Regions from separate parts of the Homo sapiens genome. Here region 1 is linked to region 2. A link means that fine-mapping ties the variant in region 2 to the expression of a gene that starts in the linked region. Tissue or cell type: testis. Region 2 holds a variant in brackets; the other region holds the start of a gene. All regions are shown on one strand. Distances are between the middles of the regions.

Region 1 (8,000 bases), 71 kb after region 2:
CACCCGGTGGGGTTGCGACGCGCTGACGTGGGCGGATCAAAGCGGCCGCCCGCCTTATAAAGCAGTTTGGGAGGCTCGCGCCGGAGATCGCGCCAGGCGAGGAGGAGAGCTCGGGCGAGCGGCGAGCACAGGCCACGGGAGCTGAGCGCAGCAGAGAGCAGCCGGAGTCCGCGCCTGACTCCGCGCGGGTCCTGAGCCGGCCGCAGCTTGCCAGGATCCCCGGCGTCCTTCTCGCGCCGCTTCACGAAGAGGGCGCCTTCGCCGCTCGCCCAGCCGGAGTGCGCACGGGCCCGCTGGAAACCGCACTCGCCGCTCCCTGGGCAGGCCGGGGCACCCGGGCACGCAGGGCGCGCCTGGCGAGCGCCCCGGGAGGTGAGCAGTGGTCGCGGGCAGCGGGCAGCCGCTCAGCGGGGACCCGCCAGGGCTGGGGGCGCCCGAGTCCGAGGGGGACGACGCTTCTCGCACCCGCCACGACCCCCTTGGGCACCCACTCCCGGGTAAGCAAACCAAGCGCTCCTCCATACCTTTCCCCCGCAGCACTCCGAAGAGTTCCCCTTTGCGGAGCGAAGCCTCGGGAGCCTGGGGACGCGGGGTTTAGGGGCACGCGGGACGGTGGTGGGTTGTGCAGTTCCTGCGGCCCTCCTCGAACTTTCCCGGCCCGGCCCCCCTCTTCTGCCCCCGCACCCCAGGCGACCCCCTCCTTCCCAGTCGTTCGGCGGATGAGGTCATGCCCGAGCCACCCCCGGGGGTGGGGGACTTGGATCCCGCGACAGAGGGTGTGTGTGGTGGGCGGGGGGAAAGGGTGGCAAAAGGCAAAGAAATGCGGCAGCGCCTAGTAAATTGGGGATGGGGGCAGAAGCCTGGCTTTGAGAACGGGTCCCAGGGGCGGCGGGGGGAGGGGGAGAACCGAGTTTGTTTACTGACCTGAGCTCCAGGCTGGGGGCTAGGGAGGAGGAAAGTCCTGTCCCCGGCCCCGAGGCACATCTGCAACCGCCCGGAACATCTGGCTGAGCTCGCGCACGAGCTCCACGCCTCCCACCCCCGGGGCTGAAGTGCCTCGGTGTCCCTCAAGGCCCTGGGCGTGCAGGGTCCGGCTCCAGGGGGTTAGCAGGAGGGATCTCGAGTGCTCCCACCCACCCTTCCCACTTCCAAAACAACCCGTCTCCCGGGTGACCCGGCGCCGCGTGCGCAGCCAAGCAGACGTCTCTCGAAAGCCTCACGGCTGGGGTCAAAGCCGGGTGGCAGGCCCGGCCTCGCCCCGCCCCGCAGGTAACCTTGAAGCCGTCGCTCGGCGTCCCTGGTTGGCGGGGTCAGCTCCGTGAGCTGCGTGGCGGGAGGCTTCGGGACCCGCCCGTGCCGACCTTGCGCGCCGCGCGGACAATCGGCCCCGGTGCACGGTGCCCGTGGGGCGTCGGGGTAGGGGGGACCCCGCAAGTCCTCGCCGGGCCGGCGTGGCCTGGTCCCAGCGGCCGGCTTTCCAGAGTCCTCCACAGACCGGGCCTATGACCATCTGTTGGCGGCGCTGGGCTGCGGCGCTGCGCTCGTGGTGTTCTCCCTGTGCACAGCCCCAGGCGGCCGCCTCCCGGGCCCGCTGCAGGCAGGGTAGCTCGGACCAACTTCGAGGAGGTGACCGCTCGCTCTCCAAAGGTGCTACGCCTGGCGCGGCCCACTACGCGCCCGGCCCCAAGCAAGGGGCCGGGCAGGTCAGGGCGGCCCACGGCAAGTGTCCTATAGAACGACCAGGACACAGGGGGCACTCCCTCGACACGTCGTCCCATCCCCAGACGGAGAAGCGGGGGCCCAGGAAGAGGACTTGACCCCAGCCCGCGACGCAGGAGGCAGCCGCGATTCCCCCCTCCTCGAGCCCCGGCTTAGCGCCCCCTGGCGGGCTGGGGGCTTCAGGAGGCGCGTGCACCCTGACCCGCGAGCTCAGGCGGAAGGTGACCCCGTGGCCTGCGCGGCTGTCCCGGGCGCTCGTACAAGGGACAGGAACAGTCCGTCAGGACCCAGAGGCTCGGGCCAGGCGCTGCCTCCCCGCGCGACGAGCTTGGGCGGCGGAGGGAGAGCCTTGGGACAGCCGGGGCTGCACCGAAAGAGCTGGGCGGGGCTGGAGGCCTGGGTCCCCGTCCGCTGTGCGACCTAGGGGGCTCCTCCTCTCCCTGGGAGACCAGGCTGGACACAGATCCCCCGCTGTGAGTCCGCGCGCCTCCGTCCTCTTGCAGCCCCCGCCCCCTCCCCACCCAGGAATGCCGGGTGCCTTCGGGGGGCGGCGCACTTTGGGAGAGGGGAAGACGGTGACTGGAGTTTTGATTCCCCCCTCCATATCCAGCGGATATTTTTCTCGTTCTGAGAAGTGCAAGAAACTTGCAGGACCAGGAAGACAAAGGATTTGGATACAGGCTGGGTGGGAGGACGGGACTGGGTTACACCGAGAACCCCTCTGAGACCCCCAGCCTTGACGGCATGTTTGTCGCAGGCGCCCCTGTGCTGGGCGCTAGCTGCGGGGCTCTGCGGAGGAAAAAAACTGTACGATCCAGGCTTCTCCTCGCCTTCCTGTGGGTTTTGCCGACAGGCTCCAGAAAACAGTGGGGCTTCCCATCTCTGCGTGCTGACTACCCACGCGCAGGAACGCGCCACGCAGGTGGCGTCGCGGTGCAAATAGCAGAGGGGCGCTGAGCCCCGCAGGCTGCAGGGAGACGGGGTCCTCGGGGGACGCACGGCGAAGCCCCATTCCTCGTTCTTATGGAAGGGGACACCGAGGCTGGGGTGGCTGAGGGCTTGCCCAAGCTCACAGAGCCAGATAAGAACGTCCCTTTTCTGCTCCAGCGCCCCCACTACCGTGGGCGCCTCCTTTTCCAACTCCCCAAACCCTTAGAAAGGAATCCCTTTGTCTCTGCTCCTCCCGAGGGGAGAGGGGCTGGGGCTGTGTCTGACTCCGGGCGAACGCCAGGTGTTGGTAAATTTGGGAGAAGCTGGGAAGGGAGTTAATGAGGTGAGAATGAAGTGAAGGAGAAAAAAAGCGGAGATAGCTGCTCCGCGGGCTGCGGGCGGGCGGGGCAGCCTCTCCTCCGCGGCCCGAGGGCGCCGCCTGGAGGCCAGAGGCAACACCGCGCCAGCCCCGCGAGCTTCCCCGCTTCGCTAAGGCGGGGCTGCCCAGTCCCAGCCCGCATGCTTCCACTCCCACCCTCCAAAGTGGAGCGGCTAAAGACGGACTTGGAGACTCGGAATCCTCACTGTACAAAGAGCCCTACCATCCCGTTTCCCATCCTCCCCTTCCCACACCGAGAAAGCAGGGCCCCGAGCAAGCCCCATTTCCTGATTTCGCCGGACACCCGGCTTGCCGCTCCCTAGCTGAACCCCACCTCTGTGCCTCAGTTTCCTCATCTGTGAGATGAGGCAGCGATAGTGCCTATCTCACGGGGTGCTGGGAGGAGCAGATGCGATCGTGTTAGGGAACTTTTTTTGTTTGTCTGTTTGTTTGAGACGGAGTTTCGCTCTTGTCGCCCAGGCTAGAGTGCAGTGGCGCAATCTCCGCTCGCTGCAACCTCCGCCTCCCGGGTTCAAGCGGTTCTCCTGCCTCAGCCTCCCGAGTAGCTGGGATTACAGGCGCCCGCCACCACGCCCGGCTAATTTTTTGTATTCGTAGTAGAGACGGGGTTTTGCCATGTTGGGCAGGCTGGTCTCGAGCTCCTGACCTCAGGTGACCCGCCCGCCTCGACCTCCCAAAGTGCTGGGATTACAGGCGTGAGCCACCCTGCCCGGCCAGGGAACGTTCTTTATAAAAGCGGAATTGTGCCCGAATTGCCCCAGCTTACTGAGGAGGTAAACTGAAACACGTTTGGGAAGGAGAATTGCCGAGGCCCTATTAACTAATGCTCAATATTGCAGGGATAAGCCCCAGCTCCGGGTCCTCGACTCTGCTGCCTCGCCTGGACTCCTGATTCCTCATTCCTCTCCTTTCCGTCCCAGGTTGCGTCTGTCCGGGTTTCCCCCTCTGTCTCCGTGGCTCTCAGCCTTGTCCTCTGAGCGTCCTTCTCCCTCTCGCTGTGTCTGCCCGGTCTCTCCTGGGTCTCCGGTTCTGCCGCCTCCTGTCCCTCCTTCCGGCTGCCCCGGCCAGAGGGGCTCGAAGGCGCGTTGGGGCCCGGGGCCACGCTGGGAGACACGCCTTCGGCCGCGCCTAATTCGAGCCAGGCGCGGGACGCGTCCCCCGGCCGGGCGGAGCGGGAGGGGACGCCCGCCGCGCTCGGCCTCCCCGGGCCCCGACCCCTCCTTTGTAATTTGAATAAAACGCCTCCCCCGCCCGCGCGCCGCCTTAACCCGCCGCCTCCGCTCTCCCCGGCTGCAGGCGGCGTGCAGGACCAGCGGCGGCCGTGCAGGCGGAGGACTTCGGCGCGGCTCCTCCTGGGTGTGACCCCGGGCGCGCCCGCCGCGCGACGATGAGGGCGCGGCCGCAGGTCTGCGAGGCGCTGCTCTTCGCCCTGGCGCTCCAGACCGGCGTGTGCTATGGCATCAAGTGGCTGTGAGTAGGGACCCCGCGTCCACGCGCACAGGCCAGGGACTGGGGCGGCGGAGGGCGTTTTGGGGTCCCCTGGATGGGGCGAGCGCACCAAGACCCGGGAGCCTAAGCTGGCTTGGCGGTCGTGGGCAAGTCATCCCTCAGCCTCTGTTTCCTCCTCTGTAAAATGTCCCTGCCTCCCGCAGGCTTGCGAAAAGGGAGTGAGACGGGCGTGGACCACAATGGAAGCGCCTGGTCCTGTGCAGCTGACGGTGGCGCAAGGGCCACGGAGTTTCTGGCCACCTCCGCAGGGGCAGATGGAAAAAGACATTCTGTTCAGGGGGCGCAATCCAGAGCGGCCAGCCCAGGAGCGGTCCTTGTCCGTCAGTCTCCTTGACCCTAGCGGGAGTTCCGCTGAGACACTCCTGACCCCTCCACCTGGGCGACCTTGGGAAAGTGTCACTCTACTTCTTGGGGCCTCCTTGTCCTCCTCTGTCACGGGAGGGTGAGACTCCCCACCTCCCTCAAATCAGATGAGAAGAGGCTCCTGAAAGGACCTCAGAAGCTGTCAGATGCCACTGTGCACATGTGCAGGGCATTCCTTTAGATAGAAATTATTCACGCAGGGGTAGGAGGGAGAGAGAGGCTTGGTGCCGAGCTGAAGGGAGTGCCTGCTCAGGGGGCTGGGGGTGGTGAAGAGAGGAGTAAACACCAGCCCCTTCCCGGAGGAGCTGCGCTCTAAGTTGAGAGAGATAAGCCCAGGCTGTAAATAACTCCACAAGTGTCCAAGTGCCCGAGGAGAAACCAGAGCGGGAATCTGGAGGCCTAGAGGAAGGAAGCCCACCTGGTGGGGACACAGATGTGAGACACCGGGAAGCTTTTCCGAGGCTGTGCCTCTGGTGACTGAAGCGCTGCTGGGAGTTGGCTGGTTCGGGCAATGGAGAGGACGCTGTGGGCAGAGGGGCTCCCTGAGAGGGAAAGTCCAGGACAGGACAAGGGTCTGGAATCTGGGGCCAGGGCAGGGAGCCTGCAGATAAGACAGCAGGGGGCAGGTTGTGGGGGCTGGGGAGGGCGCTGCAAAGGGTTTGTGAATTAGTTGGAAGACAGGGTGATAGTGGCTGCGCCGCCAGCAAACAGTCTGGAGGTCACTGGCCCTGCCCCTTCTCAGGCCAAGTTATTGATTAATTGACGATTCGAGGAGGGAACCCCGTCTTCCTGCCTTTCTTGTTTACAAGAAGCCTGGTCTCAGCAATCTCCCAGCCCTGGGCACTAGCTTTTCCCAGCTGTCCCTGAGGAGTTCTGTGAGAAACCAGCCACCTTCCTTTTGCAATGGGGTACCCAGCACTGTTCCAGCTGGCAGGGACCTCCGATCAGCGAGTCCAAGCTCTCTCATCCACCGCCACCATTTTACAGATAAGGATACTAAGGTCCAGGGAAGGAGAGGATTGGCTGAAGGAGCGTCAGAGGCCTTGCAGTGGGCTTGGGTGTCATTTGCCGCCCATAAGAGTCCTGTGGGGTCACTGCCATCATCCCTGCTCCACAGTGGGAACACCGAGACCCTGCAAAGGGCATGATGCACGCAAGCCCCCACGCTGGCCTGTGGTGGGATGGACGGCTGGCTAAACCTGACGTCCATGTCCTCTGTCCCCACTGCAAAGTCAGGCTGCCACAGAAATGGGTACAACTCATTGTGTGCCTTAAATAAGCCCCCAGGCTCTTGGGGGAGATGGACATATAGAAATACAAAGTGGACTATGGTCTGTGTCCTAGCAGAGGGAGCATGGCAGCCCAGAGGAGGAGTGATCAGTTCTATCTAAGGGAGATGCATAGGCCAGGATTGGAAGGACAGGGAGGATTTGGATGGTCAGAGACGGAGTGCAAAGCAGGCGTCCTAGGCGGGAGGCACAGCACGAGCAGAAGCCTGGAGGCCGAACAGCGCATGCGGGGAGACCTGGAGAAACCAGGCACCACAAGAGCCTACTCCTAAGTGCCCCAGACGCTGCTCCGAGAGCTTGGGTCATGTAAGTTAGATCATACTGCACTCCTATGAGAAACTGATAGTCTAGCAATAGGGGATTAAAGTCTTGCTAGAGTTTAAGATAGAGGGGGAGGTGGGAAAAGGGGTGGAGTTTAAGAATAACAACGATCTGTGTATGCATGTGTATATATAGATACACGTGTGTAGGCCACGTGCATATATCTATGTATATGTACATATATGTCTACACACACATGGCCTCACTTTGTGCTAGGTGCCGTTCTAAGTGCCTTATGTATATTGTTCCATTTAAATATCCCAACCACCCTGTGAGGTGGGTGCTGCTATTACCCCCGTTGCACAGAAGAGGAAACAGAGACTGGGGCACACAGAGATGGGGGACTCTACCTAGCAGGGTGTCACAGCTCAGAGGTAGTAGAGGCAGGATTTGAGTTAAGCTGCCTAGCTCTGTGGACTGTTGGGCACAGGGAGCCCCAGCACAGCTGGGAGCAGGGAAGTGTTCAGTGAGGCTGGAAAGCCGGGGACTCACCCAGGAGCCTCCGCTGGCCTGGGCTTTGGAGAGTGAGCTGGAGATGAAAGGGGCACTTGGCACAGGAACTGAAAGCCAACATGGCCCAGTGGCCTGGAATGCTCACCTGGTGGGTGCCTGGGACGCAGGCTGAGCTGGTGGGATGGGGGCTGGGGAGAGGGGATCAGAACCTGGCTGCCCATAGAGGCACCTGCCCAGAAATAACCTGGGGATCCTTCCCTACCTTACCTCCACCCAGGCCAGGCACCAGAAGACTCCCAGCCCCTCAAGTATTCGGGGTCCCAGGTCTGGGCTGTCCACCCCCTTCTTGGCTTTCCTGGGTAGGGGGAGGGTTTGAGGGGAGTCCCACTCTCCTGTGAACCACGGAAGCGGTGGGGTGAGAGGAAAGGCCCAGGCCGGTTGGGAACATCCATAAAGGCCGCCCCCTTCCCTGGGCAGTCCCACACCTGCCACTCCCACGGAGGTGGGGCCAGGAGGCTCTAGAGGGCCATGGCGCTGCAGAGTAGGGTGGAAGGAGCGCCAGACTGGGACTGCAAGGCCCAGCCTGAGTTCTGCAGGTCAATCGCTTTAGCTTCTCTGAGCCTCAGTTTCCTCAGCTCTAAGATAGAGGTAGAAGGAGCCCTACCTCAGGATGCAGGAGGCCTGGGGTCTAGCTTGTCTCTGCCTCTGATTGGCTGCGTACAGATCTGGGCAAGCCCTGCCCTTTCCGGGCCTCAGTTTCCCCACTTGCACAGTGGGAGTTCATGATGCTGTGGCAGCTGCCGTTTGGTTTCTTGGTTGAGAAGCATCAGACCAAGGCCTGTTAGGGCTTTACCTTTGCAAGATGGGCTGCACAGGTGGGTCAGCATGTGTGAGGCCAAGGGGACAGGCTTCCATCTCTGAGGTCTGGGCAGTCAGGTGTGAAGGGGACCCAGTGTCATTTCCAGGCAGGACTGGATCTGCAGGCTCAAGGCCCTTCATCAGCCTCCATTTCTCTA
Region 2 (8,256 bases):
AACATCCCACAGAGTCCCATGGCAGGCGGGCTCAAGGGCACCTGGCTTCCCCAGCACCCTCGCCCACCATGGCCCCTGCACTTTCCCGTCTGTGATTTCTGGCAGCAGGAAGGAGCTGGCCGGGTTAGTATTATTTTCCTGGTTTGCCTGACTGCTATGATGGTTCCTAAAATCACACAGTGGGGCTGCTACCATCCTGTTTGGGAGCCGGGGGGCTCCTTATCTGAGCAGACCACAGCTCCGCTCCCGCCTGGAGCCCAGCCAGGACAGCCACACAGGTGCCCTGAGGTCATGTAGCAAGAGCAGTGGTAGAAAGCTTAGGCAGGGGACCACCGAGGACACTCGCACACATTGTCTCGCTGGACACTTCAGCCAGTGGGTCAACTGGGCAGAAACGGAGGTTCTGAAAGGGTAAGGGGCTTGCCCAAGACCACTCCACAGGTCCCAAGTTTCCAGGCCCTTGTGCTGTTTCTTCAACCCCCACCCCAGACAGTGAGCAGGGAGGTTCCAATGCCTTGGCCCCATCGGGGGAGACCTGGCTGTTCCTGCTCCCTGCCTCCCCTTCTTCCACGACGTGGCCAGAACCTGGCTGGGAGCAGGAGGCCGGGGTCCTCGGCAGCCCCTGGCATGGCAAGCTGGGTGAGTTCCCCTCTGAGCTCTGGACTCGTGGCTGCTCTGAGGACCCCTGCCCAACAATGGCCGAATTCTCACTCCCCCCACCCAGGCCCTCATCTCTCCACAGGGCATGAGGCCACCAAGTCTCTCCCTACTGGGAATGGGAGACCTAAGGTAGTGGTCAGAGTCTCTCTCTGCCCACAGGACCAGTGGGCACCCCAGGAGTCTGTTCTAAGGAACCCCACTGTTCCCTGTTCTAAGGACAACAGAAGGCAGCAGGTGGTTCTGGGCCAGCCGAGTGGCCTAGGTGGCAAGCTGCAGGAAGGAATGGCCGCAGGACTAGCAGGGCCCTGCAGCCTGGCTGGTGGTCCCCGAAGTCGTCTGTCGAATGTTGGCTTCGCAACTCAGGCAGTCTCCTCAGCTCCCCAGCCTTAGTGTCCTTGCCTGGAAAGGGAGGAAGTGGTAGCACTTATTCCATGCAGTTTCGTGAGGATCCCGTGTTAGGGCCTATGAAGCACTTAGCAACTGTCGGACACCTAGCAGATGCTTGACAAGATGCAGCTGAGTATTATTCGGAATATTTTTTAACAAGTGGTGGGCAGGGCCAGCTTCACTAGGAGCAGCCCTGGAGCTGAGGGCTGGACCTGATTTAGAGGCAGGCGAGTCCCTCTCCACCGAGCGCCCACCCACAGTGTCAGCCCATCATCAACTCCGCCCTGAACATCTCAAGGGGGTGTTACTGCTATCTCCACCTGCAGGAGTGCCCTGTGAGGCTGCACACATTCGAGGGTAGATCTGGGTCTCTATGGGGTCCTGATGCTCATATGCCACACTCCACCTGGCCACTCATGTTTAACCCTGCCCTCTCCTTGCGAGGGGGTGTCTCTGAATATGTGGGCTACCCCAGGAGCTGCTGGTGCCCTGCCCTCACTCTGCTGTGGGGACCTGACCTGTCTTCTCGTGCCCAGCTCTTTCTGGCTCAGCGCAACTGCAGAGCTGTCACCTCAGCCTTTGATGACATCTTTACTTCTTGCGCCCTGTTGTTCAAGCATCCGATCTGGCCCCTGTCTTCTCCCTCAGCCTTTGAACTTGACCAGGGTTGGGGCTGGGTCACCCACCGTCTGGGCCTCCCCACAGGTGTGAAGCTTCAGGCAATTCCTTCCCCAGCCACTGCCCCCTGTTTCACCCCCTCACATGCAGACACCTGCTGAGTGGTATTCAATGACAATACGTTCCCTCGGTCAGCAAATATTTGCCGCCTGTGGTTCAGCCCACCTGCAGGCCACCCAGGATAGGAGCAGAGGGGAGAGTGGCCATGAGCCAACAGCGGCAGGCTGCAAAGGACACCATTATCATCTCTGGCTGCATCACCAGAAATGTGGGGGCCAGGACCCTACATTTCTCCAAAGCTGGACATGGAAGGAATGTTCTACTTTGGAGAACGGCCTGCTCTGGGCTCCATGGACAAACTGGACCTTGTCCAGAGGAGGCAAAGTTAGACAGATCCTCCAATGCTTCCTGACGTCTGGTTGTTGAGACTATTACATATGGAAGATAGAATTTGAGATGATTTTAGGTGATTCATGAAAAACTTACAACATCATATAGAATAGTGTCATAAACCCCGTGTCTGAATCATCTGACTTCAACAATCATGGTAAAACATCCAGTTGCCTCCACCTCCAGCGTGAAGTCTTCACTCATCTCAACATTTTGGTCACAGCATTGACTTCTCCTGGGACCCTTGAGCTGGTTGAAAGCAGGAGTGACGCTGGTCTATGTGGGTCCTCAGCCCACGACAGGGCCTAGTCCACTTTAGGTGGCATCAAGGTAGTTGGATTGAATCAACAAAAGAAGGTGGGAAGGACCCAGCGGCCCAGCATCTTCTGAGCACCCGCTCTGGTTAGGGAGCTCTCCCACCTGTCACCCCCTTGTGAAGGAGGGACTATAAGCCCCATTTTACAGTTGAGGAATTGGAGACAGAGAGAGGTTGAGTGTCTCACCCAAGTTACACAGCATTATGTGGAAGAGGCGGGTTGGGAATCTACCTCTGTCTGGTCCTAAATGGCTCTGTAATTTTTGTCAATCCACACCAGAAAGATTTTGCCATTTTTTTAACAAAAGGAAGTTGATTTGGGGAGCAGTTTGGGGTGCCCCAATCCTGTTCCTGTCCCTATTGCCTGAAGGGCCTGGCCTTAGTCAGCTGGGCGAGTGAGATGGGGGACATGGTCTTCCACACCCCCAAAAGGGCATCCCCTCCTCTGCCACCACTCCCAGTGTCCTTAGAGTGGAGAGGACACACTGTCCTCAGCCCTAGACCTGCTGGTCACTTGCCTAATCCCGCTGCCTCTCCATCCTCCATCAGTGCTCAAGGGGGCACAGGGCATCGGGTGGCTAACCTCTCAGGGACTTGGAGACCTAGTAGGCTGACCCACCCACTCTTCAGACAGAAAGACTGAGGCCTGGAGAGGGGAAGAGGCTTTTGAAGCAATTCTAGGGTAGTCTTTCTCATGCATACGCTGTGCCTTTGTTGAAAGGGATCCTACGTTTGTGTCCCGGCCCTTGCCTGACTTGCTGGTTATGAGGGTCAGTATTATCATAACAACCCTATAAGGTAAACATTGGTATTAGTGTAATCACACAGATGGGGCAGCTGGGACAGAGAGGTGAAGGTGACCTTGCCCACAGTCACACACAGGTGTCTGGGATTTGAACCCAGAAGCGTGGCTCCAGAGTGCCCATGCTTAGGTAATTGCTGGGCTTCCAAGGGGGCTGGGTAATGCTGCCCTTGGCCTGAGGTCCCCCGGTCTCTTGCAGTGCACCCCTCACCTAGTGCATCACCCACTCACTTGCCCTGCAAAGGAGGCTTGGATGGGCTATTTGCCCCCGCACTCCAGCAGGAAGCAGGGAAACAAGAGGGCCCTGGCGGAGCTGCCGTCTCCCCTGGCTCTGCTGAGAGCACCCCAACCTACCCAGGGCCAGGTGGGCCTCCCCAGTTCATCCTGCTCGCAAAGCCAACAGACCGTGGCGTCTGCAGACCGTGACCTCCTCCCGGCAGACAGCAGCTCTGGCAGCTCCATCGTCATTGCCAACTCCAATGCCTCAATGCACATGGCGGGGCCCAGCCACAGAGCCCAGCCCCTGCCTCCCTGAGCCCACCCATGCGAGCCAGAGAGGGGCTGCGGGTGGTGAAGGAGGCCTGGGATGGAGGGGCAGGCTGACAGGCAGGGTCAGCAGGGCTGTGGTGTGGCTGTGTGACCTTGGACAAGTGACTTGAGCTCTCTGAGCCTGCCTCGCTTCACCCATTCTTTTGTAGTGGCTCTTTCAGGGAGCCACAGTGTGGAAACAGGATTTGTAAGGGGCAAACCACTGTGCGGATGGGAGGGGCTCCTGCTATGCTCCTGTTCTCTCCCATGACCCATTTGTCC[T/C]GCCCTTTCCAAGTGACCCCTGTGGTCACGTCACATTGACGTGCGCTTCAAGGACCATTGCCCTGGCTCGAGGGCCAGCTCTGCATACACTCACGCCAGACCGTCCCAGGCAGGCGGGGGCCGCGGGGTCTCCCATCTAGCCCCTGCCTATGCAGAAGAGGCAAGAAGGCCTGGACAGGAAGCCGCCTGGGTGTGGGAGCAGCGAGCACAGGAGAGGGTGTGGGCTGCAGTGGAGGCAGCCAGGCCTCCTGTGGAGCTGTGAGGAAGGCACAGCTTTGGAGTCAAAGAGCCCTTCATTCAGGTTTTGGCCTGAAGACCTGGGGTGCACGGGGCCGTGCTGCCGTGCTGGTTGACCCTGCACCACTCTGGGGGCCACCTGGCCCGAGACTGTCAACAGGAATTTGTGTATTTTTTAAGACAACGTTGTGCTTGCAGGAAGGGGTGGCTTTGGTGGATGTGCGAAGGTGCCAGCTCCCCTTCTGTCATTTATCTCTTCCCGCCTCTCCTGCACTTGCTCAGGGACTGCTCTAGGGAAAGGACTGGGTCTGATGGTCTCTACCCGGAACCCAGGACAGGGCCTGCCAGGCATTTGCTGAGTGCTTGAGTGACCCCTTGTGTGTGCCCAGCACCTGAGGACCCTGTTCAGGGCCTGCACCCGAAGGAGCCCCTCAAGCCCCGGACAGATGCAGGGACATGAAATGCCCAGGTGGGCCAAGAAGGACATCCCCACAGGTCCAAGCCCACAGTGTGTGATGTCCCCCCTGCCTACCCAGAGACCCCCTGCCAGGGCTGTCTGCAGGCCTTCAGGGTATACCTGGCACACAGGACCAACTGGGGGGTTGGGGACTGCAGTCAAGCCGGGGTCTGACCTTTGTTCAGACTCACACATCTCCCCAGAGCCTCCCAGGCCTCCCAGTCACTCCCTTGGGTCTTGGGTTCAGGAAATTGGAAGAGATTTCAGGTATAGAAAGGGTCACTGTGATGCTGACATGTGACATGACAATGTGGTGAAAGGTAGCACCCGTGGGCTCTGAAGTCAGACAGAGCCAGTCCGAAGTTCAGCTTTGCCACTTGCCAGCTGTGTGATCTTGAAAAAGTTCCTCTCCGAGCCTCAGTTTCACAGCATTAAGAAAGAAAACTGCTCCCAATCCTTGCTGGGCTGTAATTACTTCCCTGTCACATTCACTTAGCAATTTCTGCCTCACTTGAGCTTCTCATCAGGCCTGCATTTTACCCCTGGGAAACTGAGGCTTGATGAGGCGGTAGTCCCGGCTTTGCCATGTGACCTTAGGCAAGGCACCTCCCTTCTCTAGGCCAATGAAGAGGTCAGAGGAGACGTTCCCCTGGGTCTCATCTGCCCTCTGGAGTCTGTGTTTAGGTTTTGTGGTCTGGCCTCTGGGATCTTGACTGTTCCCACTCAGTTGGGGGGTGTAAGCCTGGGCCTGTGTGTGGGTTGCGTGTGTTGGGGAGGAGGGAGGCAGTTGTTTTTGGTCATCAGCTGGCCAGGCCAGCCCCTGGGGGTGCATCCTCGGAGCCCTATCTCTACATGAACTTTCTCTCATCCCCAAATTGCACACAAGGCACTTTTTGGGATCGATTTACCTCCCCTGTGGCCCCCCTGGCCCATTTTACATTTGTCAGGAAGAAATCGGAGGAGCCATAGCTGCCCTCCCTCACCTCACCCACCCCGGGGACATTCCAGGATTAGACAGGAGTGGAGGTGACAGCACAGAGAAGAATAAATCTTGAAAGACAAGGTTCCACATTTTCTCCATTTAGTACAAAGCAATGCATTCCAAAACCCAGTTCAGCCAAGGGGAGCGTGGAGGCTGGAGGCAGGAGAGGAGGGCAGAAGTCTAGATTTTGATAAACAGAACCTGCTCCCCGTGAGTAGGGATGCTCAGCCTGGGCCCACCAACAAGGCAACTGTGTCCTGGATTCATTGCCCGCTGACTGGCCAGAGTCTGACATTCTGGCCGCCCTCCACTGGCTATTCTAGCCACCATCCATCAGGTCATGCAAGGCATGAGGCCAGGAGGGAGCAGGGAGGCCTGGGGCTTTGCAAGGTGTGAGCCTCTGTGGCTGGAGGGTTTCAGCAGAGATAAGAGGACCACTGGGCGAGGAAGTTATATGAGGACCCCAGCCCGGCTCCAAGTCAGACAGGCGAGGGTTTGCCTGTTGGCTCCCTCTTCCACTAACTGGTTGCCTTTAGCAGTTGTCTGTTACCTGAGCCTCTGTTTTCTCATCCGTAACCTAAGGATGATTACACCTTCTCCCAAGATTGTTAGGGGGACCAAAAGTGGCAGTGTCTGTTCCATTCCCAGCCGGAGGCATAACAGTGGGAACAAAAGGAGTATCGTGGTAGTGGGATTTGCTGTGTCGCTGTCTCACTATGGTCACTGTAACAAATTCCCACAAACTCAAGGACTTAACACAAATGTATTACCCTACAATTCCATAGGACAGAAGTCCAAAATGTACTTTATTGGGCTAGCATCAGAGTGTCAGAACTGCGCTCCTTTACAGAGGCTCTGGGGAGATCCTGTTCTCTTGCCTTTCCCAGCTTCTAGAGGCTGCCCGCACTCCTTGGCTAGTGGCCCCCTTCCCTCCTCAAAGTCAGCGATGGCTGATTGAGTCTTTCCTGCCTCCCATCACTCAGACACAGACTCTTCTGCTGCCTCCTCTTTCACTTTCAAGGACGCTGTGCTTACAGTGGCACACCAGGTAATCCAGCATTATCTCCTGATTTTAAGGTCAGCAGACTAGCACCCGATTTCCGTCTGTGATCTTAATTCCCCTTTGCCATTTAACATAACATAGGCACAGGCTCCAGGGATCAGGCTGTGGACATCTTTCGGGTGGGGAGCATATTCTGCCTACCACTCCATTCAAGTAACTCATTTCTCCACCCAGGACAGGAAGACTTTGCTGTCCCTGTTCATCAGGAACTGGTGAATGCTGTGGACTGGTAGCGCCGTGTGCTGCTTTCCTTTCTTCTCCCTTTTCAGTAGGAATTGTTATTGCAGTTACCCAATTCTCTCTGCCATTATGGAGTCATGGTCTGTTGGAGGGATAATCTTTCAGCCACAGATTGCAAGACCTCAAGAATACATCTAACTCTGAAGGAAAATAATATAAGTCACCCAGAGATTCTGAACTCAGTATTATGAGTCTCTGATTTGTCTTCTATTTGAGAGAGGGGAGGAAGTGGGAAGGTATTATTTTGTGTGCAAGTAAAGGCATGCATAAATGTCAGCCCTCAAAGGGGTGGACTGTGTGGGCAGTTATTATCTTGTCCTCAACATCCTTTCCCCTTTTATTCTGGTGGCAGGACTCTGCTTTTGCTCTAAGGTAATTATTCCTCTCATCCACTCTTCCCTACTCATTGGCTCCTATATTTCAGATAGTGTTGTCCCCACCCCCAACTCCAGAGCTCCAGAGCTGGCCGTGAGACATAGGCCCCGTCAGTCAGAGCTTCACATATTCCTGGCCACAAGGACTTGTTCACAGATGGACTCACGACCCGTTAGAAGCAATGGGTTACATATTTGAATGCTTGCTGGGTCTACTGACAAAGGAGGACTCTTAACAAAATTTTTTTTGGCTGGACCTGAACCTGGAAGTTAATTTTATAGTTATCTTTTCACCACTTGGAGCCTAAAAATGAAGCCAACATGGGAACCAGGAGAACCGAGAGATGGAGCGAGCAGGTCCTGGGGGCAGAATTTGAGCCCCTAGATAAAGCCATGCCTGAAACTCTCATGCCCTTGGACTTTGCAGTTAGATGACTTAATATTTTTCTTTTCCTTCTTTGTTTTTTTGACTAAGCCAATTTTTGTCACTTTATGTGGCAATGAGATTGTTGATTATAAATCATATGCTTTAGCACTCTGTCGTTTATTTTTTGTTTATTTTATTTTTTGAGACAGAGTCTTGCTCTGTCACCCAGGCTGGAGTGCAGTAGCACAATCTCAGCTCACTGAAACCTCCGCCTCCTGGGTTCAAGCAGTTCTCCTGCCTCAGACTCCCAAGTAGCTAGGATTATAGGTGGGTGCCACCATGCCCAGCTTCTTTTTTTTTTTTTTTTTTTTTTTGTATTTTTAGTAGAGATGGGGTTTCATCATGTTGGCCAGGCTGGTTTCAAACTCCTGACCTCAAGTGATCTGCCTGCCTCAGCCTCCCAAAGTGCTGCGATTACAGGCGTGAGCCACCA

Alleles and levels. Alleles are on the strand shown, and positions count from the first base shown. SD is a standard deviation of normalised expression in the study named.
For the expression in testis of the gene that starts at base 4,342 in region 1, C is the low allele of the variant in region 2 and T is the other (moderate effect, 0.65 SD a copy in GTEx).

The links. PIP is the estimated chance that this variant, and not a neighbour inherited with it, causes the effect.
Region 1: it holds the start of WNT11, and the variant in region 2 is fine-mapped to the expression of WNT11 in testis (GTEx, PIP above 0.99). The same link has a PIP of 0.9 or more in adrenal gland.

The regions. Positions count from the first base shown.
Region 1 is chr11:76,202,844-76,210,843 of GRCh38, reverse strand. WNT11 (Wnt family member 11) reads left to right here and starts at 4,342. Exons shown (of 5, transcript NM_004626.3): 1 at 4,342-4,519. The coding sequence starts at 4,437. LOC112268079 (a long non-coding RNA gene) reads right to left here and starts at 1,017. Exons shown (of 2, transcript XR_002957259.1): 1 at 925-1,017; 2 at 1-579. RefSeq lists silencers at 168-337, 2,990-3,209, 4,190-4,429 and enhancers at 550-1,216, 1,549-1,598, 1,217-1,883, 3,218-3,885.
Region 2 is chr11:76,273,411-76,281,666 of GRCh38, reverse strand. No RefSeq gene overlaps it. Among named protein-coding and RNA genes, the nearest start is that of TRP-TGG2-1, 42 kb to the right of the region's middle. The variant T/C (reference allele first, on the strand shown) is at 4,044.